Linked DNA regions of Homo sapiens: regions 1 and 2 are each linked to region 3. Evidence: fine-mapped expression QTL. A gene starts in region 3. Each other region holds a variant in brackets. All regions are shown on one strand. Distances are from middle to middle. Region 1 has its middle 29 kb from the start of MKLN1-AS. Region 2 has its middle 43 kb from the start of MKLN1-AS. Region 3 holds the start of MKLN1-AS (MKLN1 antisense RNA).

The links.
Region 1: its variant is fine-mapped to the expression of MKLN1-AS in substantia nigra (GTEx, PIP above 0.99).
Region 2: its variant is fine-mapped to the expression of MKLN1-AS in thyroid (GTEx, PIP 0.97).

The regions. Positions count from the first base shown.
Region 1 is chr7:131,293,526-131,304,402 of GRCh38, reverse strand. It overlaps a transcript of MKLN1 not described here. Among named protein-coding and RNA genes, the nearest start is that of MKLN1-AS, 29 kb to the left of the region's middle. The variant C/T (reference allele first, on the strand shown) is at 5,344.
Region 2 is chr7:131,279,679-131,290,555 of GRCh38, reverse strand. It overlaps a transcript of MKLN1 not described here. Among named protein-coding and RNA genes, the nearest start is that of MKLN1-AS, 43 kb to the left of the region's middle. The variant G/A (reference allele first, on the strand shown) is at 5,544.
Region 3 is chr7:131,321,884-131,332,760 of GRCh38, reverse strand. It overlaps MKLN1-AS (MKLN1 antisense RNA), which reads left to right and starts at 4,982. Exons shown (of 6, transcript NR_125364.1): 1 at 4,982-5,146; 2 at 5,826-5,955; 3 at 8,336-8,458; 4 at 8,893-9,396. MKLN1 (muskelin 1) reads right to left here and starts at 4,885. Exons shown (of 18, transcript NM_013255.5): 1 at 4,764-4,885. The coding sequence starts at 4,861. RefSeq lists enhancers at 3,967-4,543, 4,550-4,849, 4,544-5,120 and a silencer at 4,900-5,059.

The sequences.
Region 1 (10,877 bases), 28 kb after region 3:
ATGTAATTTTTTGTTTTATTTTGTTTTTAGAGACAGAGTCTCACTCTGTTGCCAAGACTGGAGTACAGCAGTGGCATGATCATAACTCACTGCAACCTTGAATTCCTAGGCTCAGGTGATCCTATCTCTTCAGCCTCCTGAGTAGCTAGGACTACAGGCATGGGCCACTTCCTCCAGCTAATTTATTTTTTTGTAGAGTCAGGGTCTTCCTATGTTGCCCAGGCTGGTCTCAAACTCCTGGCCTCAAGAGATCCTCCCGCCTCAGCCTTCCAAAGTGCTAGGATTACTGGCATGAGTCACTGTGCCTGGTCTTCCTAATGTACTTCAGGGGACATTTTTGAGGCCTATACCTATATTGTACACATACAGCACATAGTAGGCACTCAAGAAATATTTTTTAAATTGAATCTCCTAGTTCCTCCTGAATTTCTTCTCACTAGTGTATTATTATGTTTAAATAAATAAAAGGAGTTTGCTTAGGGATCATCTATAAATCAGAAGACTAGAAAGAATTAAAGGCATGGGGCTGTTGGCCAGTTTTTTTGGTCCGTAAATATAGAAAATCACAATGGGGATATAAGAGTGAACTTGCCTCAAAATAATTCACATTGAACACTTCTCATATGAGGAAGTTACATGCATTATCTCAATTAATTTTCATAACAGCCCCACAAGTAAACTGAGACTCTTAGAGGTTGAGACTCACCAAATTCATGCATCCTTTATATCATACAATTCTCAAGTGCGTGCATTCCTAACATCACCCCAGGATTCAGAAGTCCAAGAGATGGAATCTCTGATACTTTCCTAAAACAAATGGTTCTGCCTCAATCTTATTTCTGCTCTCTCATGGTTCCGGTATTAACTCATTACAACTTTGTCATTGTTTGAGATTATTTCTTCAAGCATAACCTTGCCAAAACGAACAAACAAAAAGCAAAGAATACCAGGGTTCTGTTTGTTGAGTAAGGGGATATCCCTTTTATTTTCCAGGAGAAAGTAATTTCAGTCCTGCCCCAATGGGCCCTTTGCCCAAGACACAGGTGAACACTGAGGCTGGCTTCAGGTATGAAGCTAAGGTCTGTCTTCTCCCAGGAGGTGGCAGCAACAGCAGCTGCAGCCTCCGCCTGCTGCAGAAATCAGACAGAATTCATCCGTTTTCCTATTGGCATCCAAACCAAGAAACTCCTGGTTCCAAAGACCACTTCATCCCTTCCTTGGTTTGCAGAGCTTAGTTGGAGCTGGGGCATTGGGAGTTCAGGAGCTGGCAATAATTCCTCTTTATAAGTGCTTAGTTTTTTTTGTAAACACTTTGGTCTGGGCTGTGACCTTGAAACATGTATGAAGGAGGTTCAGGAAGTCTCTGGCCAGGGAAAAAGAGCTTCAGAAAGAAACAGTAGCTGAAACACATCCACACAAGCATAAATCTAGAGACCCCAGCGCACAGTTTGGTACCACACAAACGATACAGATTGTAGACCTGGCCTCTCAGCGACCAGCCAGCTGACCTTCTCATTGAACCTGTCAAACCATAATTTCCTCATCCACCCAGTGTGGACTAGGTCATCTTGAAGCACCTGCTAATTCTTAAATTATAAGTTACTGCACTTTTATTTTCTGGACTAATGGTTGGCCTTCACCCTTTCAGAATTTTAAAAAATCTCAGACACAACAAAGCACTACTGGTTCCAAGTTAATCCCGGTTGAGCACATATCCTGGTTTGGCAAACACTGCCAGCTGCATAGAAGGCGGGCAGGAATCCCAGGAAATGTCTGAACACCACTCAGCTATGGATGAACTGTCAACTGCTGGGGGTTGCTTTGCAAATTACCACATCTAAACGAAGCTGACAAAATGATATTTCAGAAAAGCAATTAACACTGATGCCTAGTGTATTTGGAACCAAACAGCCTTTTGGGAAGAGTGAAATTGGCTCAGAAAAAGAGTACCCCAGCGCTCCAGGTAGAAATGTTAAGTCAAGATCTTCCACACTTTTCTCCCATCACCACAAGTCAGATCGTCAGCCTGGTCTTTGTGAAGGAGACGGAAGTAGTTCCTTTCATTTTCCCCCTGCTTCCACTTGGATTGGTTAAACTTTCATCCATTTATTTAGTGAACATCTATAGGTCACCTCCCATGAGTCAGGGGCTGGGCGTACACCTGGTTATTGAGGAGCTCACAATGGAGTAGTCAGATGCTAAATGAATTAATATACATGGAGCATTCAGAAAGGGTTGGAATGTAAAATATAATAGAGGCGATAGAAATAGTATTATCTCCATAAGGCCACAGGCCAAATACCACACTTCCTAATGAACGCTATCCCTGTAGCACAATCATCTAGAAAGAATCCCATCCTCCTACAGGTATTGGCCCCTGTGGCATTGTCAATTAAACTTTTCCTATTTCACATGAAAGTTGTCATATCAGAATCCCTTCCCAGATTGGGAGTTTTGGTTCCGGAAGGCCACTCTAAATGGAAATATTGCACATGTTACCTGGCATCAAAGGATGGGGCTGGTGGGATAGCTTCTATCTCCACCTCTTCCCCTTGAAAATATCAGCACAGGTGATGGGCAGGTTAAATAAGTTTCAGTGTTACTGCAATAGAGAGAACTGGGGAATGACAGAGGTAGGAGAGCCTGGTGATAGCAAATCCTAGATAACTTCACTCCTGAAAAGAACCATATTCTGGAAGTTTGGAGAGCAGGTCAGAGGGCAAGAAAACACAGGGCTGTCCTACGTGACAAGGAATGAACTGAGCTATAGACCATAACAAACAAGCAGAAAAGAAGCAAACCATTTCTCCAGGTTCCCTGGACTGATTTCAGATTAGTCTGAAAAGGACAATTGACGTTTGCCTTCCAAGAGACACTAGATGCCCTCATAATGTTAAAATCAAGTTCAGTATTTCTCGAACATAATTTTTTAATAGAGACCTTTCTTATGTTGATGACTTCTTTTCTTCCTGCAGAGTTCCAAATAAGCCTCAAGAGGATCTCTTTCTTCCCACAGCTCCACATGCAATTCACAGCTATGCCAGTTACTACATGTATAGCACAAAGGTCGAGAACCTCTGGCCTTTGGCTGAGTTTCATCCAACTGAATGTTTAGTTCACTGATGTCATAGCCCCCAAAATAATCAGTGTTATAATGGGATTCTCTGGTGAACATATTTATAGTGAAGCCTCTGAGCAGCAGTTCTCTCCCTTGGCTTCACATGGGGAACTTTTAAAAATCCTCACCCCACATCCCAAACCAATTACATATTAGGGGTGGGGCCTAGGGATCAACTTTTCTTTTATCTACCATAGGTATCAACATTTTTGTACGTTCCTCAAAAGATGTCTATGTACAGCCAAGATTGAGACTTTCTCACGTTAAGTCTTAGGATAAGAAAAGGCAGGAAGCTGCTAGTAACTGACAGCTGAGCTCACCTCCTCCCTTTGGAATTTCTCCCGAAAAGCCAGCATGAAGAAACCAAATACTGCAATGGCAGCCAGCATAAACATCCACCTTGTAAGATTTCCATTTCTGCCTTCCCACCGTATCCATCAGGTCTACAATTAAAATGATTTGAATACCTACAGAGTTATGAACAGTGGCTAATCAGTATTTCAAAGAGAGAACCAGCAACAGGTGATGGTGGTATGAATGCCACGCTCTAGAGATTCCACATTCTTTTTTTTTCTTTTTGGTTGTTTTTTTTTTTTTGAGACAGGGTCTCACTGTGTCACCTCACACTGGAGTGCAGTGGCGTGATCTCAACTCACTGCAATCTCTTTCTCTGGAGTTCAAGCGATTCTCCTGCCTTAGCCTCTGGAGTAGCTGGGATTATTACAGGTGTGCCCCACCACACCTGGCGATTTTTTTTTTTTTTTTAACTAGAGACAGTGTTTTGCCATCTTGGCCAGGCTGGTCTTGAACTCCTGGCCTCAAGTGATCCACCTGCCTCGGCCTCCAAAAGTGCTGGGATTACAGGCATAAGCCACCACCCCCAGCCCCACATTGATCTTAAAAACAAACACAAATGCTTTTTTTTCCCACCCTCCAAACTTGTCTCTCTCCCCACTCTCCAGCCATTTTTCTCTTCCCCTTCCTCTCCCTTCCTGCCTGCCATCTCCTTCACCTGCTCTCCAACCTCGTCATTGTCATTCTTATTGCACCTATTTCTTGTATTTCTTTCTTAGCCTCTGCACCTCACTATTCCTTCTGTGTCTTATTTTCCTTTAGTCTCTATTCTCTCCCCCTTACCCACAATTACACACCTCTCTTCTCTGCTTCATCATCTTTCCCACTCCCAGCTCCTTAATTGACTATAATATGAAGCAAAAGCATTGTCAGATAGTTATAATTATTAACCCTTTTCTCGTTTGCCCCAAGAATACTCACCAGCAGCGCTTGTGGCTGCAGAGTTTACCCCGAGATAACTTTGCCACAAAATATCTTGCTTTTATTATTATTTTCACATCGCTCTAGTATATTGACTTTGGAAACAAAAGACATCATTCTGTTTATAGCATTCTATTTTTAGAGGTGGTATTTCCATTTACAAAATACAGTAATTCTCGATTGCTGAAAATGTCAAATCCTAGAAAACATAGCATTCCTATGTGCGACGTTAACATCGTTAACGAACAGTTGGCCAAAGATTCATTTGATGAATCCCATTTCTCTGAAATAGACAATTCTGATGATTCAGATGATTCTGATGTTAGTTCTGTTTAGAATTAACTCTAAGAACAGTTTTTATATTTTATTTTCACATTGAAAATCAGTCAGATTTGCTTCAGCCTCAAAGAGCATGTTTATGTAAAATTAAATGAGTGCTGGCGGCGAGCTACACTTTTTTTCTAAATGGGAAAAGGGTTAAATGAGATATTCTATTAGTTTTAAAAGCAGGTAAGTGCTGAAAATATTATATTTCTCTCTCCAAGGAGAAAAAAATCTAGCTCATAGTTAGCACTCCTTAAATCCTAACTGTAATTATTTTTCTTATAATTTCCTGTATTGGCCCCAGATTCCTTTTTTCATGTAGTTCATTGACCTTCACCAGAAAAATGGTTCTCTGTTCAATTCTGACAACAGCAGCTGACATCAATGTAAAAAGAGAAACAAGCTAAAAACAGTAGTTGAGTGTATACACCCTGAATTGAATATTCAGTTGCAAAATCATCATGATTATTATTGTAATTACAGAGAGGAGGCATTGCAATAATTGTTCAAGTGTCTTCTTGAGGAAATAACTAAAACAGGGCCAGCTGTCACAAACCACCCTACAATAATGATCCCTGTGTGTGCATCTTCAGTATTCATAGTGACCCCATAATAACAAATTTGTG[C/T]ACTCATCTAATATCCTCTTTCAAAAGTTTTAATTTTATAAACAATAGAGACAGAATCTCGCTGTTGTTGCCCAAGCTGGTCTCAAACTCCTGGCATGAAGCGCTCCTCCTACCTCGGCCTCCCAAAGTGCTAATCTGATGCCCTTAAACAACTGAAAAAATAACAAACCTATGATCAGATTCAGTATTTCGCTTGATAGTTGACCCTCGTTTCTAAATGGTGTCCATGAACAGCCTTAGAATACTAAACTACCAAACAAAAATTGCTCCATCGATTTAATAACAAACTAGAGTGGGTAGTCCAGCATTCACCTGCAACATGAGGGCAACAAATCTAGGTACAAGAGTAGAGTGGAAGCCAGGCAGATAGGTCAGCAGACAACTAACACACTTAGGAGAAACATCTACAAAGACAGGCGTGTTTTATTGACTTGAAAACTGTAAACAAACAAGATCTGTGAGAAAAGAGGGAAGGCCTTGTTTTTTGTTTACTTGTGAAATCAGCCAAAAGTATTTGAAATTTTCTCTTCCCAAGATACAGCTGTGAAATGACTAATGGAAATTGAGTGAGCCTGCACCAGGAACTGAATGTGCCACTTCACTGAGAACAAAAAAATGTTCCCCAGATAGAGGCTGTCCTCTCAGATTAATACCTTGGGTGCTTTAAAGAGGACCAGCCAGGCACAAATATGATGCATTTGTAAAGAGGAAGAATCATCCAAGCACCTTGGCAAATTTTTTTCATATCTCAGTACCTCTGAGTCATGTGCATATCTTTTTTTTTTTTCTGAGACCGAGTCTTGCTCTGTCGCCCAGGCTGGAGTGCAGTGGCGTCATCTCGGCTCACTGCAAGCTCCACCTCCTGGGTTCACGCCATTCTTCTGCCTCAGCCTCCCGAGTATCTGGGACTACAGGCGCCTGCCACCGCGCCCGGCTAATTTTTTGTATTTTTAGTAGAGACGGGGTTTCACCGTGGTCTCGATCTCCTGACCTCGTGATCCATCCGCCTCAGCCTCCCAAAGTGGTGAGATTACAGGCGTGAGCCACCGCGCCCGGCCGTCATGTGTATATCTTAACTTGCATGTTCCTGAAGAAATTCCACAAAGAGGCAAAGAAAGAGAAGGAGAAAGAAAATTTCCTATTACATTATTTTTCCCTTGCTGGGCTTTCCAATAGGAGTCTGGCTAAAGGCTGAACCTGAGCTGCTTCAAGGATGAACTTGGTAACTGCTCTGATCAAATCTTCCTAGGTTCTAAAATTCACACTTCTAGTTGCAATGGATGAGTACCATTTGCATATTCGCATCTCCAGCTAAAAACAATTTACCCTGCACACAACCTTGTCCTATTTCAAAAGTATCATAAGGAGCACTGATTGACATTTTGAAAGTTGTTCCAAGGCACAATCTGTGCATTTTTTTCCATTGTAAAAGTAATACATGACCATAATAAAAATTGTATCATCCCTCAGTAGACTTCGGGGGAGTGGTTCTAAGGCCCCTATATATACTAAAATCTACACATACTCAAGGCCTGCAGTTGTCCGTACAGAACGGGCAGATACAAAAAGTCAGCCCTCAAGATATTTGGGCTTTGTATCTGCAAATACTGTCTGTGTGTGTGTGTGTATGTACACACACACACACAGAGTATTTGTGTATATATATACACACACACATATATATATATATTTTGTTTTTTGAGACGGAGTCTCGCTCTGTCACCAGACTGGAGTGCAGTGGCGCTATCTCGGCTCACTGCAACTTCCACCTCCCGGGTTCAAGCGATTCTCCTGCCTCAGCCTCCCAAGTAGCGGGAACTACAGGCGCACGCCACCACACGTGGCTAATTTTTTATATTTTTAGTAGAGACAGGGTTTCACCGTGTTAGCTAGGCTGTTCTCAATCTCCTGTTCTCAATCTCCTCGTGATCTGCCCTCCTTGGCCTCCCAAAGTGCTGGGATTACAGGCGTGAGCCACCACGCCCAGCCTGTATATATATCTTTTTAAGAGATGAGGTCTTGGCCAGGTGCAGTGGCTCATGCCTGTAATCCCAGCACTTTGGGAGGCTGAGGCAGGTGGATGACTTGAGTCCATGAGTTCCAGATCAGCCTGGGCAACACAGTGAAACTCCATCTCTACCAAAAATACAAAAACATTAGCTGGGCATGGTGGCACCCATCTGTGGTCCCAGCTTCTTGGGAGGCTGAGGTGGAAGGATCGCTTGATCCTGGGAGGTTGAGGCTGCAGTGAGCTGAAATCATGCTACTACACTCCAGCCTGGGTGACAGAGTGAGACTTCATCTCAAAATAAATAAATACATAAAAATGAAAATAAAGAGATGGGGTCTTGCTATGTTGCTTATGCCGGTCTCAAACTCCTGGCATCAAGCAATCCTCACACTTTAGCTTCCCGAGTAATTAGGATTACAGGTGTGAGCCAACTACTGTATTTTTTTATCTGAGTTTGGTTTTAAAAAATCCAGATACAAGTGGACCCATGCAATTCAAACCCATGTTCTTCAAGGGGCAACTGTAAATTGAAACTTCAAACTGATTTAAAATGGAAGGGAAAAATCTCGTTCCCACTCTTATCACAAGGCAAGCACTGTTAATTATTTCTGGTGTATTTTTTCTATATTAAGATATATAAAATAGACTCCATTTTTACACAGAGCAAATAATATATATCATCCTATACCTTGCTTTGTTCATTTAGTAATATAGCAGAAATATTTCCATAATAGCACATGTAGATGTTTTAATCATTGGATGGGCCATAAATTTATTTGTTGCCTAACTGATGAACTTTAAATCATTTCTACTTACACTATTATTATAAACAACATTTCCATCAATATCCTTATACACATGTCATTGGGGACTTGTATGACTCTCTGTAGGATAAATTCCTTTCAATGAAATTGCTGGATCAAAATATATGTACATTTAAGATTGGGTTAATGTTCCTAAATTGTAACCGCCAAAAAAGTTGTTCCTTTATATTCATCGACAGTGTAAGTTTCACTGTAACTTTGCCAAAACTAAGTTTTATTGAATTTAAAAATTTTTGTCACTCATAGGTAAAAATGGTATCACACTGTTGTGACCTGCATTTTTCTAAGCACTAATGAAGCTAAGTATTTTTTCAAGTGTTTTTTCCTTTTTTTTTTTTTTTGGATAGGACGTTGCTCTGTTACCCAGGCTGGAGTGCAGTAGTGGAATCATTACTCACTGCAGCCTCCATCTCCCAAGCTCAAGCAGTTCTCCTGCCTCAGCCTCCCTTGAAGCTGGCACTACAGGCAAGTAACACCATGTCCAGTTAATTTATTTTATTTTTAGTAGAGACGAGGTCTTGCTGTGTTGCCCAGGCTGGTATCAGACTCCTAAGCTCAAGTGATCTTCCCACCTTGGCCCCAAAGTGTTGGGATTATAGGCGTGAACTACCACACCTGGCTTTTTGCCACTCTATTTGTATGAAATATTTGTTCCTATTCTTTATGCCTTTTTTTTTCTTTTTTCCCTCATAAAACTGTAAGATCTTTTAGTAAAATAAAGAAATAAGCACTTTTTCTGTTGGATTGCAACTTTTTCTACTGTGTCATTTGTCTTTGGCTCTATTCATGGTGTGTTCTTGTTGTTGTTGTCATTTTTATTCTTACCATATAAAGGTTTTAAATGTTTTACACAATGTGTTTATCAGCATTTATCTTTTTGGTTTCTGAGTTCTGCCTGTGTTTTAAATGTTAGCTCTTGGCTGGGCATGGTGGCTCATGCCCATAATCCCAGCACTTTGAGAGACCAAGGTGGGAGGATTGCTTGAGCCCAGGAGTTTGAGACCAGCCTGGGCAACATAGTGACACTCTGTCTTTACAAAATAAAATAAAATAAAAATAAGAGCAAAAATTAAAATTAAAAAAAATAAACCTTAGCTCTCTTGCAAAATAGGTCTCTTTGCAGTTGCCATTTTAATGCACCAGAGCTTGATTTGAATTCCCCTGTCACACGGTAGAGGTTAAGAAATTAGGTTTTTCTGTGGAAAGAGAAAACTTACAAAGGGAAAGTCATTAAGAGAAGGGAAGGCACAAGGACCCCATCCTCCCGTCGTCCTCTGGGTGACCTGCTAGCCTCACGAGATGGTTTGCGTTCCAAGGAAGGGAACTCTGTCCTTCTTTGGGTCTCTTTTTTGTATGTAGCAAGTGTGAGAGCAGCCTTATCATGAAAGGAATAATCAGATTATCTTGGCACCAGGCAGCCTGGAATTTATTGTCAGCTGTTTACCAGAGATATCTGGGAAACGCACACAAGCTGCCCAGCATCTAGACTTTGGTTCCTGTGGAATGTTACACAAGGGAAAGGAAGACAGTGGTCCCTTGGGAAGATGAGCTTGTGTACAGTTTCTCAGGCTGAGAGAAGCCCCCTTCCTCAGCCCTAGCTCTCCACACCTGGTTTGAGCTAGCTCATTTCCCAGGCAACACAAAATGAGCACTCAGATTCATTTAAAACAAGCCTCCTCCTTCTATCACGTTAGATTAATGAAGAGCCAGGCAGTAGAGATGCAATAAACTCGTTCTTTCCCCAATTTTTTATTTTGAAAATTTTCAGACCCACAAAGATGGAAGAATAGTACAAGGAATGTGCCTATATGCTTCACCTAGATTCACCAATTATTAACACTTTTTTCACTTTTGCTTTATCTCTTTCTGTAAATATACATTTTTAACCGTTGAAGCATTAGAAAGTAAGTTGAATACTTTACAGTTATTCACTTAAAATAATTCAGCATACATCTCCTAAGAATAAGGGCATTTTCCTCCATTACTACAGTTCCATTTTCAGGCCTGGGAAAATTAACAGTGATTCAATAATAACATCTTTAAGTTCAGATTCAGATTTCTTCATTCGTACCAAATGTCTTTTACATAGCCTTTGATCCAAGATATTAACAAGGTCCATACATTGCATTTGATTCCGTTTCTCTAGTCCAGTGCCCCAAGACAGACTTTTAGCAACGCTTGGAGACATTTTTGATTGTCATGACTGGGTGTGCTACTGGTATCTAGTATCTAGAGACCAGGGATGCCTGCTAAAGAGCCTGAATTCACAGGACAGCCCCCTACAACAAAGAATGACCTAGTCCCAAATGTCATTTAATACCTAAATTGAAAAACCCTGTTCTAGACTATCAAGAACCATTTCCCTACTTTATTTGCTTTTCATGACACTGACTTTTATTATTATTAATTAATGAACTTAGAGACAGGGTCTCACTCTATTGCCCAGGCTAGAGAGCAGTGGCGTGATCATAGTTCACTGCAGCCTCAAACTCCTGGTCTCAAGTGATCCTCTTGCTTCAGCCTCTGGAGTAGCTGGTACTACAGGTGCACACCACTACACCCAGCTAATTTTTTATTTTTTGTAGAGATGGTCTCACCATGTTGCCCAGGCTGGTCTGGAATTCCTGGCCTCAGGTGATCCTTCCACCTCAGTCTTCCAAAGTGTTGGACATAGGTGTGAGCCACGGTGCCCTGCCAGG
Region 2 (10,877 bases), 42 kb after region 3:
TACAGCTTGTTAATTCATTCCACAAAGAGCATGAGTGCCCATTATGTTCCATGCAATGTTCTAGGCACCTGGGATACATCAGAGAATGAAACAACAGCCCTGCCCTTGCTTACCCTTTAGTTGGGAGAGATAGGTGAAAAACAAATTTGCAAATTTACATAGAGTATTAGAAGTAGGTAAGTGATAATGAGAAAAATAAAGCAGGGTTGTACAGAGGATTGCAATTTCATTTTTATTTATTTACTGTTTGAGACGGAATTTCACTCTTGTTGCCCAGGCTTGGAGTGCAATGGTGCGATCTCGGCTCACTGCAACCTCTACCTCCCGGATTCAAGAGAGTCTCCTGCCTCAGCCTCCCAAGTAGCTGGGATTACAGGCACCTGCCACCATATCTGGCTAATTTTGTATTTTTAGTAGAGATGAGGTTTCACCATGTTGGTCAGGCTGGTCTTGAACTCCTGACCTCAAGTAATCCACCTGCCTTGGCCTCCCAAAGTGCTGGAATTACAGGTGCAACCCACCGCACCTGGCCAAGAATTGCAATTTTAAATAGCATTGTCATCATTTAAAAGACAATATTTGGGCAAAGAATAGAAAGAGGTAAGGAAATTGGTCATGTGTTCCCCTAGAAGAACAACAAACAAAAAGGCCCTTGGTCAGAAGTGTGCTTGGCCTGCTGGAGGTGCAGCAATGAGGCCAATGTGGCTGGAATGTAGTGAATGGGGGGAAATATTTTATTTACCTAACAAACACTTAAATAGCCCTTACTAGTAGCATTATTTGAAGCACATGAAAGATATTAACTAATTCTCCCAGCAAGTCTATGAAGTAGATACTGATTTTACCTTTTCCAGATGAGGAAACTGAGGTACAGGAAAGTTAAATAACTGCCCCCAAATGACACAGCAATCAAGTGATAGAGCTAGGATTGGAACTCAGGTGGTCTGTCTCTAGTGATGCATGCTGTTAAACACTAAAGTATGCTGTGCTGCTTCCTGGTAGTAAGAGATAAGAAACAAGTGGGTACTAGATCCTGTAGCTTATTAAAGTCCATTGGTAAGGATTTGCGGTTGGGGTTGTTTTTTCATTTTTTGTAGAGATGAGGTCTCGCTATGTTGGCCAGGCTGGTCTCAAACTCCTGGCCTCAAGGGATCCTCCCGCCTTGGTCTCCCAAAGTGCTGGGACCACAGGCGTGAGCCACCACACCTGGCTACTTGTAGGTTTTAATAACCATCCTTCCCCACTTCCTGCAAGTGTCATCATGTCTGCCACACCCATAAACCCCCTTCTAGGTTTCTAATAGACAGGACACCAAATTACGTAACAATTTATTCTGCCATTCCAAACAAAGCCATTTAGGCCAGGGGTGGGGACACCTGATCTAGGGCATCAGACCTATGCTCATGAGATGGTTTGTCAAGAAGGCTTTGATAGCCGGGCATGATGGACATGCCTGTAATACCAGCACTTTGGGAGGCTGAGGTGGAAGGATTGCCTGAGCCCAGGAGTTCAAGACTAGCCTGGGCAACACAGTGAGACCCCCATTTACTTCTACTTTAAAAAAATAATTTTTTTTTTTAAAAGAAGGCTCTGCCTAACCACCTGCACTTGATGGTGAACAGCCAAACTAGGCAGATTCTTTTGTTGAGTTGAATATGAAATACAAAGAGAGAGTCAGCAGTTAGAAATGGGCAGAAACTAAAAGATACACAGAGAGAAGGAAGAAAGCTGAGGTCATGTGGCAGCAAAAAGCATGCAGCAATAGAAGCTGTGAGATGAGAAAAGAATAGAAAGTACTGAACAGCAAGGGCAGTGGAGAGTCACAATACTAGCAGATAATTAGAGTGCAAAGCAACAGATACTGACTACTGAAGGGCCCACAAGATAACCCAGTTGCTAGGGCGGCACTGTGTGCTGAATCACCTTCCCACTCCTCGTTGCCAGAGTGTGGCAGAGAAGGACATGGGGCTTGTATTAGTCTTAAGCTTAGACTGAGGTAACCTGAGTATATCTCTCCGTTCTGAAAATTAAATTTTTGCTTCTTGGAATCTCTATCACTCAAGATCATGGCACAAAACTGAAGGCACATTGCGCTGGGATTTTGAAAATCATTTGATGAAATTGATATTTACAAGGATGTAGGGAGGGTGGTGGGAACTTAAGCGGATACTGAGGCACCCAAGGTCGAGTAGCAGTAGAAGTCCAGGCCTGAAGAGAAACAGTTTATCAGAGTCCAGAAAGAGCTAGAACTGTGAAGGGGCATACCTAATGCCAAACCCATGGCGCTAAAGCAGGGAGGAAAGGAGAAGAAATATCTCAACCTCTTTTGCCTCCTACCCTCTGATACTTGCTGATGCCTGCCATTGGACAAACCCAACAGTAAGCCAGAGGGCACTGGCTCCCAGGGGACGAAATCTGTGGGGTAACATCCTTGTCGGGAACAGAGTGTGGCAGAGAAGGACATGGGGCTTGTATTAATCCACTGTCACACTGCTATAATTTAAAGATACTACTGGAACCTGGGCAATTTATAAAGGAAAGAGGTTTAATTGACTCACCGTTCCACATGGCTGGGGAGGCCTCAGGAAACTTACAATCATGGCAGAAGGCAAAGGGGAAACAAGGACCTTCTTCACATGGCGTCAGGAGAGAGAAAAGTAAGAAGCAAAGGGGGAAGAGCCCCTTATAAAACCATCAGATCTCATGAGAACTCACTCACTATCACGAGAACAGCATGGGGGGAACCTCCCCCATGATCCAATCACCTCCCACTGGTCTTTCCCTAAACATGTGGGGATTATGGGGATTAAAATTCAAGATGAGATTTGGGTGGGGACACAAAGCCTAACCATATCAGGGCTATAATGGGTTGAATGATATTCTCCTCCCCCTCCCCCGCCAACAAAACATGCCCACAGCCGAATCTCTGGAACCTGGGAATATTACATTACATGGCAAAATATGTGATTAAGTTCAGGAGGACCTTATCCTGAGAGGAGGACCTTATCCTAGATCACTGTGGTAGGCCCTAAATGCAATCACATGTATCCTTATAAGAGAGAAGCAGAAACTTTAAGAGATAAAAGGAGGAGGCAATGTGACCTCAGAGGAGTGGCCACAAGCCAAGGAAGGCCTGGGGCCCCCAGACGCTGGAAGAAGCAAGGAGAAGATTCTCCCCCAGAGCTTTCAGGAGTGTGGCCTTGCCAACACTTGATTTCAGACTTCTGTCCTCCGGAACTGTGAGAAAATAAAATTCTGTTGTTTTAACCTATCCAGTTTGTAGTAATTTGTTACGGCAGTCACAGAAAACCAGGACAGGAGCCAGATGGAGAATAACCAGCACAAAACCTGTTCATCTCAGATGGGACAGGAGGATATACCTGATCACTTTAGCTGGACATTCTTTTGCCTGCCTTTTATATTCCCTTTGGTACTTTTTGTTTTGTTTTGAGACAGGGTTTCATTTCACTCTGTTACCCAGATTGGAGTGCAATGGCACGATTGTGGCTCACTGCAGCCTCAATCTTTAGGGCTCAATCGATCCTCCCATCTCAGCCTCCCAAGAAGCTGGGCCACAGGTGTGCACCACTACTTCCAGCTAATTTTTTTAAAAGTATATATGGGGCCTTGTTATGTTTCCCAGGCTGGTCTCAAACTCCTGGCCTCAAGCCATCCACCCATCTTGGCCTTCCAAAGTGCTGGGATTACAGGTGTGAGCCACCGTGCCTGGCCCATTGGGGCTCCTTTTGGGACCACTCATATGCCTCAAACTATATGCTCCTGAGTTGTAGTTCTTTTGTTATATAAATATTGTTTTATCCAAATAAGATTATGACATTCTTATTCGAAACAAGAACCTTGTCTTGTACATCTTTGTAGCCCATAAAAATCTTAGCACAGTACTTTAAACAGAGTGGACATTCTGTAATTGGTAAATGAGAAAGAAACCTTCCATTTGTCCATCTGTAAATGGAAAATAACAATTTCTACTGACTTGCCTCTCAGAGATAATGATGGCAGTGCTTCCTGGAAACAATTTTTTGTACCTGTAACAGAATGATATATCTGAAACACCCATTCCTACTGAGGCAATTCCTTGGGGGAGGAAAAAAAAACAAAGCTACATTTACTTTTAGCATGTCCTCCATTCCACGTGCAGATGAAACTGCTTGCAGATCACCCCACAAAGGAAAAGGCAGGGGATAATTAAGAAAATATAAGAGCTGAGGACTGATATCTTCTTAGGAACTTTGATTCATTCAATAAACATTTATCAAAGAACTACTATGTTAAAATATAGTCCATTGGCCAGGCGCAGTGGCTCACACCTGTAATCCCAGCACTTTGAGAGGCCAAGGCAGACAGATCACTTGAGATCAGGAGTTCGAGACCAGCCTGGCCAACATGGTGAAACCCTGTCTCTACTAAAAATACAAAATTAGTCCGGCGTGATAACGCATGCCTGTAATCCCAGCTCCTTGGGAGGTGGAGGCACGAGAATCGCTTGAACCCGGGAGACGAAGGTTGCAGTGAGACGGCGCCACTGCACTCCAGCCTGGGCGACAGAGTGAAACTGTGTCTCAAAAAAAAAAAAAAAAGTCCATAGATGCTGAGGAAACACACGCAGAGAATAAGGCATGATCCCAAGTCAGTAATTGTCACGCAATATGATGAATGGTTTTTATAAGAGCAAAATGCTATGGGGCCAGAAAAAAGGGAATGACTAACTATTGATGGGAGTTTCACCAAAAAAACTCACAATCAAGCTGGTCTCTTAAGACTGCATCAGGCAGAGGTGAAGTCAAGGGCATTCCAGGACCAAGAGAAACAGCTTTGCCTGAGCTGTTGCCAAGCAAACCACACCCTCAGCTCAGCCCTATTGTATCTACAGAGGCCTATTTTTATTCTTTATCCTCATCGCTACTTTTTAAGAGAAGAAAAGAATGCTGACTTCTTCCCTAATTTGCATCCATGTATTTTATATGCCAAAGAAAGGTGATTGTCAGGAGGGAAAATAGAAGTTGACTTTCGGCAAGTCCAATTACGACAGGTCCTCACATCCATCTGATAATAAGTTAACATGGAAACGCTTACCTTTGCTGAGCTTCTACCTCATTTCGGAAAATTGGGTTAGGCTATCCTGTGAATGCAGTACCAGGGGGAAAGTGGACAAGGTATGAGCGCATCCCGTGTCTCATTGCCCCACACCAGGAGGTTCATCTTTGGCAAACACTCCTTGAATGGGAATTATGGCTGAGGCCCTTTTTCCTCCCCTAGGCTGACCTTCACATCACTCCTCAGGGAACAACTCTGCCTAGGGCACCGCCCAGCTTCCCTCCCAGGCCAGCCCTGCTAGGCCTCTGAGACCAGAGCCGTGCTGCTTATGAGTGGAAGAAAGGAGAAAAAACTCTTAGGACAGCAGCCAGGAGAGAATGAAAGACTGGCCAAACCCACCAAGGAGCAAACGGTTCCCCATCCTCACCCTGCAGCTTCTGCTGGAAAAGCGGGGAGGCTGGGGAACCGGAATCTCAGCCTCAGAGTAC[G/A]CATCACTTATCCTTGTTTTCTCAAGAAGCCTCTACCTTCCAGGCCCTGCCAGGAAGCTGGCAGCATTTTCCTGAAGCAGTAATAACAAGGACAGAGCGTTCTAGCCTGCTGGAGCCTGCTGGCTGGTCACTCTTTCCACTGCCTTTTGTTTTCATGCATCATTCCCCTCACTTGCTTCTCAGATTCCTCAGGGCTTTGAAAAAGCCACAAATGCTCCACACAGTGACACCACCCAGCGGGCTGGCAGACATAGCTGACAGGCACCTTGCCCTAAGCGACCGCACGTATGCAAGCCCTGACAGCTGATACCCAGCCACACACCTGGTGAGAGGGAAGGCAGCACTTAGAAAGGGCCCACCCTATTCACGTAGCTGGCAAAGGTAGGGCTTTAGATCAACTACAGCCCAGTGCACTGGTAAATCACAGACCGCTTTTTTATTCAAAGTGTATCTGTATGTTGGACAGTGGTACTTCCCCACCCTTTCCTCAAACATCTAAATCCAGCCAACATAGATGCTACCAACAGAGCACCAGAGTAACCTCAGCGTGACAATCCACATATCAATATATTAGATCATATACACATGCATACTTGGAGCAGACTTAACTTTATTTGTGTTTTAGAACCACCTGTAGCCTATTTCAAACCACACTCCAGAGTGAACCTATCAGAATCTATGAAAATAGGGCTTAGATATGTGTATTTTTAAAAAACTTGACAGCGTTGGTTAGAATGTGGGACAAGACAAATTCTTGTATATCATTGATGAGATATATAACAATTGGTTCAGCTGCTGTGGACAGTAAGCTGGAAGGCAATCTAGTCAAGTCGGAAGTGCGCATATCCTATTCCCTAGCAATTTTTGTTCTAGATATATTCCCTAGAACTCTCACACATGTGTTCAAGGAGACGTACACCAGGGCATGATTTACATCATGATTTGGAATAGCAAAAAACTGGCCATAACAAATATCCACCCACAGGAGAATAGATTCTAGAACATTTACACAATGGAGCACTACATTGCAGTATTATATAATATAATGTTATGTTATATAGAATGGATTAGCTCTACAAGTACCACAGATAAATCTCCAAATCACAATGTTGAGAAAAAAAGCTACAGAAAAAAATATGTACACTATTTACATACAGGTTTAAACATGCAAAACTTGCCTATTGTGTAGTAAAACTATAAAAACATGTGGGAAGGACACTCACAGTCTTCAACAGATTGGTTACCTCTGGAGAGAGTTGAAATGAAAGGGCCTTCTCGGCCGGGCACAATGGCACACGCCTGTTATCCCAGCATTTTTGGGAGGCCAAGATGCGCAGACAGCTTCAGCCCAGGAGTTCTAGACCAGCCTGAGCAACATCATGAAACCCTGTTTCTACAAAAAATACAAAAATTAGCCAGCTGTGGTGGTGCATGCCTGTAGTCCCAGCTACTCGGGAGGCTGAGGTGGGAGGATCACCTGAGCCCAGGAGGTCAAGGCTGCAGTGAGCTGTGAGTGCACCAGTGTACTCCAGCCTGTTTTGGGCAACAGAGTGAGATGCTGTCTCAAAAAAAAAAAAAAAGAGAAGAAAGAAAGCAGTAAAGAGAGAGAGAGGAAGGAAGGAAGGAAGGAAGGAAGGAAGGAAGGAAGGAAGGAAGGAAGGAAGGAGGGGAAGGGAAGGGAAGGAGGGAGGGAGGGAGGGAGGGAGGGAAGGGCCTTCTCTTGTAACTAGAAGGTTTTATCATGGCAAGCCGTTATTATTTATTAAATCTGGATAATGAGTCCATATCCCACAGGTAACTCTGAGGGTCATGGCCATCGACAGCGGAAGGATCTTTTGAGATTCTTAGATTCTCAGTTACAGAAAATAAAAGTTTGATCTGTATAATGAGCCATCCCCATAAACATAAATGACACTGAAGAGCCCTCTCAGTAACGTATGCAGATTGAGATGCTGTTCATGAACGGAGGAGCTGTTGCACAGGCCCAATTCCCCTCCCTTACTAGGTGCCCGTGTGACCTGCTGGCCTTGTGAGCATCCTAAACAGAGTCAGAGCTGCAGTGGAATGAAGATGAGGATTGGTCCACGTGTGGAAATCATGACTATAGTCATATCCAGAAATTTCCAAACCTGGCTGAAAATCAGATAAAACTTTTAATGCAGTTGTCCATGCCCCACCATCTGAGAATATGATACAATAGGTCTGACATGAGACTCTGGAATCTGTATATTTAAAAGGCTTGCCAAGAGATTCTGATGATCGCCAGGTTTGAGAAATGATAACCAACCATGGTTATATTCTATTAATGTTTTCAAAGAAGATGGGTAGGAAGAGAAAAGGGAGAAAAGGAAATAAGAAAATTAAAGAAGGAAGGGGAGAAAGAAGGAAGGGAAGGAGGTGAGCCTTCGAACCCAGCTCAGATCCCTCCTCCTCTATTTCTCCTAGACCTCTATAGCCTCCACGTCCCTCCTCATCCCCTGAACTTGCTAGATCTCTAATCATCTGGTAACATTCATTTGGCAATTATGTACTTCCCTGTATGTTGCTGTCAAGGGCTACTGTTTAATCAATAAGTTTATGTCTTACTTTTTGAATTAGGCTATAAGCTTCTTCAGGACAAAGACCATGTTTTCTTCATCTTTCTTTTTTTTTTTTTTTTTTTTGAGACGGAGTTTCACTCTTGTTGCCCAGGCTGGAGTGCAATGGCACTATCTCGGCTCACCACAACCTCCGCCTCCCGGGTTCAAGCGATTCTCCTGCCTCAGCCTCCCAAGTAGCTGGGATTACAGGCATGCGCCACCATGCCCAGCTAATTTTGTATTTTTAGTAGAGATGAAGTTTCTCCATGTTGGTCAGGCTGGTCTCAAACTCCCAAACTCAGGTAATCCACCCGCCTTGGCCTCCCAAAGTGCTGGGATTACAGGCATGAGCCACCATGCCCAGCCCATCTTTTTATTTCTAGTGTCTAACATGATGCCTCCCACAGAGTAAGCAGTAAAGCACCATGATAAGAGTATAAGATAAAACAGGCTCAGAAATGTGGCAGTGGCTGGGCATGGTGGCTGTAATCCCAGCACTCTGGGAGGCTGAGGTGGGAGGACGCTTGAGGCCAGGAGTTCAAGGCCAGCCTGGGCAACATAGTGAGACCCCCATCTTTGCAAAAAATTTAGAAATTAGCTGAGTGTGCATGTGTAGTCCTAGCCACTCACAAGACTGAGATGGGATGATTGCTGAGCTCACAAGTTGGAGGTTGCAGTGAGCTATGATCATGCCACTGCGCTCCACCCTGGGTGACAGAGCAAGACTGTAAACAAAAAAAAAAAGAAAAGAAATATGGCAGGATACAAGATCAATAAACAAAAATCAATTGTATTTCTATACACTAGCAATGAATAATCCTGAAAAATGAAATCCAATGCAATCTCCATCAAAATCCCAACTTTTTTTTTATTTTACAGAAATTGACAAGCTGATCATGCTATTCACATGGAAATACAACCCAAAATAGCCAAAACAATCTTGAAGAGGAAGAACAAAGTTGGAAGAGGCATAGTTCCTGATTTCAAAACCTACCAGAAAACTACAGTAATCACGACATAAGGCATAAGGATACACATATAGATGAATGGAATAGACTTGAGAGACTAAAAATAAACCCTCACATTGGTATTGAATTGAATTTCTGAAGAGTGCCAAGACAATTCGATAGGGAAAGAACCGTTTTTTCAACAAATGTTGCTGGGACAACTGGATACCTGTAAAAAAATGAAGTTGAACTCTCAACACTATACAAAAAAAAAAAAGAATAACTCAAAATGGATCATAGGCCTAAATGCATGAATTAAAACTATAAAACTCCTATCAGAAAACAAGAGTAAATGTTCATGACCTTGGATTTGGCAATAGTTTCTTGGATGTCGCCAAAGCAGAAGTAACAAAAGAAAAAAATAGATAAATTGAACTTCAAAAGTAAAATCTTTTGTTCTTCAAGTAACACCATCAAGAAAGTGAAAAGACAGTCCACAGGACAGGAAAAAATCTTTGCAAATCATGTATCTGACAAGGGACTCATATCCAGAATATTTTTAAAACCCTACTACTACTCAAGAATAAAAAGACAAATGACTCAATTAAAACATGGACAAAGACAGCCTGGTCAACATAGTGAAACCCTGTCTCTACTAAAAATACAAAAAATTAGCTGGGTGTGGTGGTGTTAGCCCATAATCCCAGCTACTCTGGAGGCTGAGGCACAAGAATTGCATTAACCCGGAAGGTGGAGGTTGCTGTGAGCCAAGATTGTGCCACTGCACTCCAGCCTGGGTGACAGGGTGAGACTCTTTCCCAAAAAAGAAAAAAAAAATTAAAAGAAAAAAAAAACATGGATGAATAATTTAAATAAACATTCTGCCACAGAATATATACCAATGGCCATTATGCACATGAAAAGATACTTAACATTATTCGTCATTCAGGAAATGCAAGTCAAAATCACAGTGAGACATCTCTTCACACCACAAGGATGGCTATAATAACAAGAACAAGTGTTGGTAAGGATCTGGAGAAACTGGAACCCTCATCTATTGCTTGTGAGCATGTGAAATGGTGGCACCACTTTGGAAAACAGTTTGGCAGTTCCTCAAAATGCTGAACATACGGTTACCAAATTACTCAGGAATTCTACTCCTAGCCATATATATACCAAGAGAAATGAAAACGTATGTCCACATGGAAACCTGTACGTGAATGCTCATAGCAGCATTATTTATAGTGGCCTAACGTGAAAACAATCCATGTCCATGAACTGAGGAATGGGTAAACAAAATGTGGTATAGCCATACAATGGAATCTTTTCAGCCAGAAAAAAGTAATAATTACTGATGATAGATGCTACAACATGGATGAACCTGGAAAACAAGTGAAGGAACCCTGTCTCAAAAGACTATATATTGTATGAATCCATTTATACCAAATGTCCAGAATAGGCAAATCCATAGAGACAGCAAGTAGATTAGTGGTTGCCTGGGGTTGGAGTGGGCTTGAGGGTGGGGAATGGGAACAAGGAATGGCTGCTGATGGGTATAGGGGTCTTTTGGGGGATGTTGAAAAGGCTGTAAAATTAGATAGTTGTGATGGTTGCACAATAGTATTAATACAGTAAAAAAACCATTGAACTATATACTTTATTTTTGTTATTATTATTTTTGAGACAGGGTCTTGCTCTGTCACCTAGGCTGGAATGCAGAGGTGCAATCATGGTTCACTGCAGTCTCCACCTTGCCAGGCTCAGGTGATCTTCCCACCTCCACCTCCCGAGTAGCTGGGACAACAGGT
Region 3 (10,877 bases):
TACAATATAGAAGAATATTTAATAACATAAGGAAGTATTTACTATATGTTAAGGAGGAAAAAGCAAATACAGAACAGCAAACAGGACAACAGTAAATTGAAAAATACATACATCTACAGTAAAAGATCTGGAATGATAATAAACAGTATTTAAAGGGTGACTAGTAATCTTTAGGTAGTGATATCAAGGGTAATTTAAATTTTGTTTCTGTGGGTCCATATTTTACAAATATTCGATAATAAACATAGAGCATTTTTTACATCAAAATATATATTAAAAGATATATAAAATATATTTTAATATATATGATATAAAAAGTGTCTATTTTTTTCTTAGACATGGGGTATTGACGAGATGCTGTCTTTTTCTTTTGTAGAGACAAAGAAGAAAAGAATATATATATATTTACATATTTTTAACATAATAATATATAACTATGCACATATATTTTATGTAATAAAAATATATAAATATTTATATATTTTTTTTCTTTTGTAGAGATGGGGTATGTTTCCCAGGCTGGTCTCAAACTCCTGGTCTCAAGTGATGGTCCTGCCTCAGCCTCCCAAAGTGCTAGGATTACAGGCATGAGCCACCGTGCCTAGCCTATATTCATTTTTAAATGTGAAATTTTAAAATTAGTTTTGAAAAGAGTTGAAATAAATTCACCTTCTATTCTAGTTGTCAAATCATAACACTTGTACTCTGAACCATGAATCAATCACATGTTGACACAAGGTACTATTTTAAGTACTATTTGATTTTAAGTAATAAGACTAACAGGAAAAAGGTAAACACACTTAAAAATCTATCAGATTTTATCATCTAAATTATCTAAGTCATTCAATAATATGTAAACAAGATAAGAATCATTCTATACCAATGAAATTACCTAATATGTAAAAAATACTTTCAAAGTTTCTCCCAGTTCTCATATGAGTATACTAAAATCTTAAACATCAAGATAAAATCTATTTTTCCCTCTCTTGCTGTTCTAACCTTAGAGCGCTTATCTGTAATCTCAATTAGACATATACAATAGCCATGTATAATAATGAACAGCTTTCGTAACAGAAGTCAAAAGGCCCAATATGAGAACCTTATCACCTACATTTTCTTCCTCCTCATCATTATTATTATTGCAGATGGGGTCTCATTGTGTTGCCCATGCTGGTCTCAAACTCCTGGGCACAAGTGATCCTCCTGCCTTGGCCTCCCAAAGTGCAGGGATTACAGGTGTGAGCCACCCTGCCCTGCCCCTCTTACATTTTCAACTCTTAGACCTGGGCAAGTTAACTTACCTCCCTAAATCTCACTTTTCCTAGCTCTAAAATAGAATAATAATATTTATCTCATAGGGTTTTTGTGAAGACTATTATATCAAAGAACACATGCTAAATGCTCAGTACAGTGCCTGAAGAATAGAAAGTACTCAATAAGTGGTGACTGTTATTAAAGTCACAATGCAATAGTTTTTAAGTCAGAAAACCTGGCAAGCCTCTGGAAAACTATATGACCCTGGGCAAGCTACTTACCCTGTATGGACCTCAGTTTCATCCTCCACAAAACATATATAAAATACCTATCTTACAGGTATGTACCAAGAATTAAACAAAACTGTATACAAAAAGCATCTTGCATATATTAGGTGCTCACTAAATTGTAACTAGCATCATTATTAGATACAAAAATAAACATTTGAGTACAGGGATTAGCAGTTTACAAAATATTTTTATGTATAAGAGTATATGTAATTTTATGAATTATTTAAATAAGTGTATTTAATTATTAAATTAGGTGTAAATTTCAGAAAAAAAGTAAAATACAGGCAATCTCTAAGCACACAAAAATAAAAGGCCTTTTTTTAGTCTCAAAGTAAAAATGTGTTCCCTATAACTGAATCTGCTTTAACATTTTTAAAGTCCAAATAAATTAAAAAGAGTTGAAAGGGGAAATATTTGTTTTTTCTGCCTCTGGAAGAAGGGGAAAAGAATTCTAAGTCCTTAGAAAGAAAATAGAGATAAAATTGTTCAATTTTTTTTAATGACTTCACATTTCTTTACACAACTAAAATGTAAGTGCCTTTAATACAAGAGCTCTTTTAAAGTTCTGATTTCCTGTACTATATATACCTTTGTGCAGAAGCAGTAAAACACTATAGTTAAAGACCACAGACTGTGGAGCCTGACTACCTTGATTCAAATTCTGGTTCCATCTAGCTGTGTGACCTTAGGCAAGTTTAAACTTCTCCCTACCTGCTTCCAACATCTGGCAAACGGAGATTCCTCTTGGGATTGCGGTAAGGATTAAATGAGTTGATACACTTAAAAATGTTCATAAGAGAGCCTAGCAAATGGACGGCACATCATAAATGTTTACCATTTTTGTTACTGATTTATTACTGCCACCTCGAAATGCTTAGATCTATGCCAACAAATATTTGCCACTTTGTGGACAATTTCAACAAATGTCTTTAACCTAAAATGAGACCTGTTTAAGAAGTACCTTAATATGGTTTCCACTGCCAGTAAAGATACAACAATTGCTGCTAGAGGGGATTTTAGGGCAAAGGTAAGTAAAGTCAACCCCTTTCCTACATCTTCTGTCACACAGAGAAGTAATATCCTTGCTTGCTTATAGAAGTTCAGAGCCAAGAGTTTTATAATTTAGGCATGGCACACACCAACCCAGCAGACACAATATTCTCCAACTCCAGCTCCATAATACTCAACTATACTCCTTCAAAGAAAAAAGCTTAGATTACTCTTCTAATACTTTACTTTAAATACAAATTATACTGCATTTGTCAATAGAATGTCATAAGGATTAAACAAGATATAGTAAGTGGAAGTGTATGAAAGTTACGTATGTATTAAATACTATTTTATGTATGTACTTGAGAAAATTGCAGCAATGTATTTCTCCAATCTCAAATTGTTGCTTTCTAACTCCAAAACTAGTGTTCTGCCCACTGCAAACCAGGGGCCAGAGTAACAAGACACAAAAGATTAAAGTTGCCATCCCACTAAATCATTTCCTGCTTGAAATGTACTTTCTTAAAATGTCTATACAACAGATAACGCGGATGGTACTTGTGTTATCCAAGCCTCAGGCCTACATCAAAAATTTAAGGAGTGACGTCCTGGAAATACGCTAATTCAAGACCAGAAAAATGTCTCTACAGTTAGATCAAACAATGCCACACCAATTCCCAACTGTCCATAATCCTAGCCTGGGTATAGAAAAAAGCTGAATAACTTCAGATCCAAGAACAAGATAGCCCAGAATATCAGAGGTCAAGTACATAGGGCCACATTTCAACTCCAACTACATGGCTGGACTGTTTATCTGGCTCACTCTCAAATTCAAAGTTGGGTTTCAGCATCAATCAGGGATATGGCCATGAATAGGCTACGCAGGCCAGATCAAACCACAGGTCACTTGGCACCCTTCATTGGGCCAGATCCTACTGAATGCCAACCCTTGACCTGGTGAATAAAATGGGAGGCTGGCAGTCATGACAGATTCTTCCAGTTGCAGCTCCATTTTGAGATTCTTCATTGATATAACCAGTGAAATCAAATTTGGATAAATGTGAAGAATTTCTCAAATACAGATGGAAAACTTACTTGAGTATGCTTCACAGATCTAGTCACTTTTTTGTTTAGTAAAATACTCAGTAAAATATATTATTCATTAATTTGTTTCGTTCATAAAATCGTTTCGGTCCTGTGAGATGGTTAGAGGGACAACTAGCACTTTTCTTCAGGATCTGCACAGATCTTAACCCTTTACTAAGCCAGTTCCTCCACTAGCATGTAAAATTGGAGTTAGATCTGCTCCTCCTTTCAAAGATAAGCCAAAGATAAATAAGATACTATGTAAGAGTATTTTCAGCATTTCAGAAGGAATTTGCTAGAGAAAAAAACACCACCAACAAAAACCTAACAATGCAACTGAATTTTTTTAACACCTAAATCAGGGATCAAGACAAAGCCGGTGTTGAAAATCAAATTCATTAAAGCCAGATGTTTCTATGTTTGAGTTTCCGGACTGGGAAACGTGTCTGTGTCCATACAAACCCATCTTCTAATGAGCCGTAATACTGAAATTCTTCGGTAACGTCCCTCCTTCCCACTCCCTATCTTTTTCAGAACTTCCAGGCATTAAAGACAACGTCTGCCAATCCTACAAGTTCTCCCCGCCTGCTAGGATTCAGATGGATTCCACAACTTTTCAGCCTTCCGTGACTTTTAACACTACTCTAGAGCTAATCACTTTTAATGACCCCACTCTGGAATAGACACTCCTCGGCTTTACACTTTGTCCCGGCAGCAATCGACTGAACTGTCCCCCGACGCCGACCACCTCGGACGACCTCAGACATTCGGGGTAGTTTGCCCGCGGGCAGGGCCCCGCCAACTCCGATTCCTGCCCCAGAGCCGTCCGCCCCCCAAGCCCTCCTCAACCTCAACCCCCAAATCCCAAGCGCAGAACCGCTGGGCTTCCGGTTCTCCTGTGCGCGCCCCGGATCCGCCACACACCTCGCCCCTTCTCCCTGGGCTCGCTCTCCGGACCCTAACCCCTTCCCGAGCGAGGCCGAGCAACGCTCTCAGCAGCTGAACTAAGACTCCGGAGGCCGCACGTCCCCCTCAGCAGGCCCCGCCTGGGCCTCTCGGCTCGGCTGCCCTCCATTGCACCCCTGGCCCAACCGTGCTGACGCGGAAGGGTGGGGCAGCACGAGCTCAAGGCCCGGCACTTACTCGGGAAGGTAGGTGGAGGAAAAGGAGCTCCACTTGTGTAGCGCGTAGGGGAGAAGCCGGCACTCGGGCGCCGCAGCGACAGCTCCGCCAGCCGCCATCTTGTCAGCACCGTAGCGGCCGCCACCGACCGCTGGCAGCGAACGGGAGGAGGGGAGGGGGCGTGGCCTGCTCTTAAAGGGGCCGCCGCCCTCCCCGGCCGCCCGCGCTCCCCGCCCCGCATCGTTACCCGAGCCCAGCGCCGGGCCAATGTCCTATCTCAGGGTTTCCCACGTCGCTCGCTCCTTGACGGCTGACCGACACTGGGTCTGAGGTGTAAGCGCTTTCCAGGCCCTTCCCTGGGGCTTGGAGGGGAATGGCGCAAAGGACTTTTCTTACAAGCAGAGGTAAGGAAAAGCCGAGATGATTACGAACAGAAACACGTTGTAGTTATGGAGCAGGAAGGGAAAATAAGAAGACCAAGTTGGAAAAGGGACGCCTGTGCGCTTTTGGAAGCCACCGCCCTCGCCAGTTTATAAGTCCTTTACGGAAACAACACTGAAGGGAGCTGGAGGGCAGTAGCTAATGTGCTGTCCTCCTGGAGTGGTCCTGGTTTTAAATGTCTTGTCCCCGCCTTCCAGAGTCAGATGGAGACAGGAAAAGGAAATGGTCCCGTGTCCTCCTACCCTGTTTGGTTTGCAGTCTGTGATGCCCTTCATTGTAAACATTTCTTGTGAGCCGCATCCTACTAATCTTGTGGCATTGGTTTGCTCGGGAATGACGTTCACCCACAGACCTGAAAAGTCCTTACAGAGTTGGGAAGCTGCGTGTCATCATTTTTTCAGTTGGCAAATCTGCCCACTTTGAACTGACATAATTGTAGCCTAAAAGTTCAGAGAGAGAGTAGTTCAGGAAAAAGACTATTCCTTCTTCTTAGAGGGAACAGCAGCCCTGAAAACTATGTGGACATCATACCAGCTTCTTACAACAAAAGGTGCACTTGGTCTAAATTATCTGGCAGCTCTAGATAACGTTCTCATCAAGTACCTGTTTGTTGTAGTTATGCATATTTATTCCTTGGCTTAGCCACTGCAGTTACCAAAGAGTATGTCGCTTATTGTCTAAGAGGTTGGACTCCTGAAAGCCTGGACAGTGTCATCATCTTCACCTGAAGAGTGGAAAAATTCAAGCAAAGAGTTTCTCAGGAAATGACCAAGTGAGTCAAAACACCTCAATAATTGTATTCTCTTCCCGTTGTAATCATTAACCTGCCGAAATTCCCTCCAGTCCTTTCCTGACTTCCTGTTTCTATAGATGGAAATTTTAATAGTGGGCTCTACTAGGATATCAAATCAAAAAAGCCAGATAGAAAGGCCAGGCCCGGCACGGTGGCTCACACCTGTAATCCCAGCACGTTGGGAGGCTGAGGTGGGTGGATCACCTGAGGTCAGGAGTTCGAAACCAGCGTGGCCAACATGGTGAAACCCCGTCTCTACTAAAAATACAAAAGTTAGCTGCGTGTGGTGACATACACCTATAATCTCAGCTACTTGGGAGGCCGAGGCACAAGAATCACTTGAACCCAGGAGGCAGAGGTTGCAGTGAGCCAAGATCACACCACTGCACTCCAGCCTGGGCAACAGAGTGAAATTCTGTCTCAGAAAAACAAATAAAATACAATAAAATAAAAAATTACATGTGCTTTCTGTGTTGCAGCAGGTTGGAAAAGCATGTGTTCCTTAAGGGAATGCTGTAACTGTAGTGACTTGGGTCGGGAGCTGCCAGAGACAGTGGGAAAGGGCCAGAGAATGTTAGCCCCAGAGATGATATAGTGGTTATCTTTGAAGAAAATAGACACTTTAAAGGGGAGGAATTAACTCACTCCAATTCCTTTGGGCCCCAGATTTTATAATTCCACTTCTTACCTTAATGTAAGTCAAGTCCTTGTTCTTTTCCAGACATAGTTCCTGAGCAATCTTTTTTAAAAACACATGTTAATTAGTTCTTCTTAAGCTTAAATCCTTTTGGTGACTTTCAATACCCTTCTAAACTGTTTAACAGAGGCCCTTCATAACCTGCCTTGATTTTTCTCTCCAGCTTCCTCACCACCACCCCCCCCCCACTTTTCTCCTTTGCGCTTTTGACATCTGCCCACTAACTAGCACACTGAATTTGTTCCCATAGAGTCCTTGTTCTCTCTAGCCTCCGGAGCTTGCTCTAAGCCAGGCATGGAATATTCTTTCCCATTCTTTACCTGGCTAACTCCAGCTCATCCTGTAGACTGTTTGGTCCTGGAAATTTTTTTGGTTTTTTTTTTTTGAGACAGAATCTCACTCTGACTCTGTCACCCAGGATGGAGTGCAGTCACATGAACATGACTCACTGCAGCCTTGACCTCCTGGGTTTAAAGGATCATGCTGCCTCAGCCTCCCATGTAGGTGGGACCACAGGCAGACATCACCACACCAAGCTACTTTTTAAATTTTTTTGTAGACACAGGGTTTCACTCTGTTGCCCAGGCTGGTCTTGAACTCCTGGGCTCAAGCGATCCTCCTGCCTCGGCCTGGCCTCCCAAAGTGCTGGGATTACAGGTATGAGCCACTGCGTCTGGCCGAAAATCTTTCTTCAACACCTGCTCTGGGATTAGGTGACAGTTTTCTTCATTTTTTTTTTCCTATGCAAGCTAACACAGGATAGGTAACATTTTTTACATTTCTCTTAGCACTCTAAGTTTCCCTCTTTATCTTAGCACACATCACAATATATTTTAATTTTCTCTTTTTTCCCCTTTCTTTCTCTCTAAATGATAGCTCCCATGAAGATAAGAGTCATACATATCTTGTTCACAGTTGTATCCTCAGTCCTGTTGATGTGTCTAGCAAATAAAGATGTTCAGTAAATATTTATCAAAGAGTGAATGAATAATGCTAAAAGAGAACTTTAATTAGAGACTTCTGAGTTGCAAAGGAAAAAAAAAATGCCAGCACTTCTCAGACTACAAACGTGTATCCCTGAGGTATAATTGCTACTCAGAAGGTAAAGACCCAGGATAGCATGGCTTTCCTGCATCACAAATTTTATAAATGGTAAAATAATTTAAAGCATTCCTATGTTAACATACAGACAGCTATATTATGATACCAAGACGAAAATTTGTTTAAATGTTAAGAAAAGAACTTTATCTGAGGAATGCAAATCCTTTTAAATTATGAGGCCCAGAGAGGCATTAAAGTGAAACAGCAATCCTGTCCTTCTCCCCCACTTTTGAACTGTGTATTTGTCTCTTGAAACTGCTTACTATTGCCACAGAAGCTAAACATTAACCTACTAATTAATGCTGCACCAGACATTATAACCCTCATCCTATAGTTTCATAATGTATAGCCAATCAGTAGCTTGATTTATTTTAATGTAAATTCTTGGTAAATAACTCAGGCACTGCCTCATCTTTCCCTTTAAAAATCCACTTGTAACTGCTGCTACTCAGAGTGTATATTCAAGGCAACCTGAATCTATGTTCCCAGGTTGCAGTCATCAAGCTTGGCCCAAATAAACTCCCAACTTATATTAATTTTGCCTCCGCTTCTTCCTTTTAGGTAAAACATCTGGAGTAAGTCAGCAGGATTCACAGTGACTCCCCCCAACCAGCTGGTGGTGTTTCTCTCTGAAAGCAGCGCTTGGTACCAGTGTGAACTCTCTTCCTTCAGAAGTCTCATCAGGTGTTTCAGATGAGTTCTCCGGAATTTGGACCTCCTACTCTTGGGTTGAAGGTCTAGACTTTATTTGGGCTGTTTTTCAAACCCTTTCTTTAAGTGTGAGGGCTTCGGTCTCTGTCTTTGGACAGAAGATTCGGGTATAGAGCTCTGCAGGGAACTGCCTTTTTTCCCTCTCTGTCTTACAGCAGAGGTGCAGGTCATGGTTTTTCTGCCTCTGCCTCAGAACCAGGGGTTTGGGTCAAGTTTTTTTCACCTCTGTCTCACAGCAGAGGTTTGAGTGAAAGAACTGGCAGTTAGGCACCAGTGGTTTCATTTTATATCGTATGTGTTTGAGATAGCAGTTGTTTACTATCACTTGAAAATTCTGAATTAGTCTTTAATTTTAACTAATTCCTGTTAGTTCCTAACTGAAATGTGTACCCCTTTTGCTCTTCCAGGTGGACGTAATACGAGGGTCTGGTCCCCCATACCTTGAGGACTCCGCTGCCATCTGACAATTACAGACAATCCAATTGTCCTCATCCTTGAGGACTCTGCTGCCATCTGACAATTAGAGACAGTCCAAAACATGCCACACTTTGATCCTAAACACATTCCTGGCTTTGGTCACTTTTGAAAAGTTCCTGAGTTATGAGAAATCAATAATAAGAGTGTTCAAAACCTGAACACTCTTTTTAGAAATACCTGCTGGAACTACATATATGATTTATGGGGTACTGTCTTGTAGTATCTGGGAAAGTAGACCCATCTAACCTGGAATGATCATAGGCAACAATGACCAAAAATGGGGATCTTTTGATATACCTAAAGTAATTTATTTGTGCACACCATTGGAAAGAGCTGGTTTTAGAACCAGACATGTAAATAAGAGACTGACTTCCACTGGCACCTAAAAACTTCTAAAAGAAATCCTGAAAGAAAAAGTCACCTTCATTCAAGAGGTAAACAAAGGGATATTTGAAACTATGTTAAAAGACTTCAGAGGCTTTCTCCCTTTCACCTCCAGACCCTCCTTTTCCTTCCAGCCCTGTGATCTGAACTCATCCCTTTCTGCCGCTTCTCTTGGCTTCCATACATCTCTTAGGCAGAGATGTTTTAAAATTTCACAATGTACACATTTCCTTCTCTCAGGGGAAATGAATTTAAATTTAGAGCAGAAGGAACAAGCAGAACAACAACAGAATGGGAATAAGACTGCTGAGACTATAAAAATGCAGATCCAACAAAATTTTTTCTCACCAGGTCTAGTGAATGACACTGTGATATGGTCTGGCTCTGTGTTCCCAACAAAATGTCATCTCGAATTGTAATCCCCACGTGTCGGGGGAGAAGCCTGGTGGGAGATGATTGGATCATGGAGGCAGTTTCCCCCATGCTGTTTTCATGATAGGGAGGGAGTTCTTACGAGATGTGATGGTTTAAAAGTGTTTGGCAGTGGCCGGGCGCGGTGGCTCACGCCTGTAATCCCAGCACTTTGGGAGGCCGAGGCGGGTGGATCATGAGGTCAGGAGATCGAGACCATCCTGGCTAACAAGGTGAAACCCCGTCTCTACTAAAAATACAAAAAATTAGCCGGGCGCGGTGGCGGGCGCCTGTAGTCCCAGCTACTCGGGAGGCTGAGGCAGGAGAATGGCGTGAACCCGGGAAGCGGAGCTTGCAGTGAGCCGAGATTGCGCCACTGCAGTCCGCAGTCCGGCCTGGGCGACAGAGCGAGACTCCGTCTCAAAAAAAAAAAAAAAAAAAAAAAAGTGTTTGGCAGTTCCCTTTCTGGCTTTCTCTCTCCTACTGCCTTGTGAAGAAGGTGCTTGCTTCTCCTTCACCTTCCACCCTGATTTTAAGTTTCCTGAGGCCTCCCCAGCCATGTAGAACTGTGAGTCAATTAAACCAATTTTATTTATAAATTATCCGGTCTCAGGTAGTTCTTTATAGCAGTGTGAGAATGAACTAATACACACTGATTTATTGACCCACTGTGAGACAGTACCCTTTAAATCTTATCATGTCTTTAAAATGCTAACATTCAGGGAATTAGCTAAGCAGCATTCCAGATGAGATCAGATCTAAGACAAGATAAAATCCTTAAATGCTTAAACTGCCTGCTTTGGATTCCCTGCAAAATTTACCAAAAAACAAACACACAAACAAAAAAATGAAAACAAAAACAAAGAAAACACCCCATCCAGTGGTATAATGGCTAGGATTTGGTGCTTTCACCACTGTAGCCTGAGTTCAATTCCTAGCCAGGGAGCTAATCTCATTTGTTTTAAAGTATTGTATGATTCTTAACCTTTTGGGATACCAATTGTTATTGATCCTTATCTCTTCCATGGACAACTTTTGATTTCCTGTCTTTTTCCATTTGTGGGACATACAGACCATTTGGGCCTTCATGAGTAACCAGCTGAGAAGCTGAGATCAGATA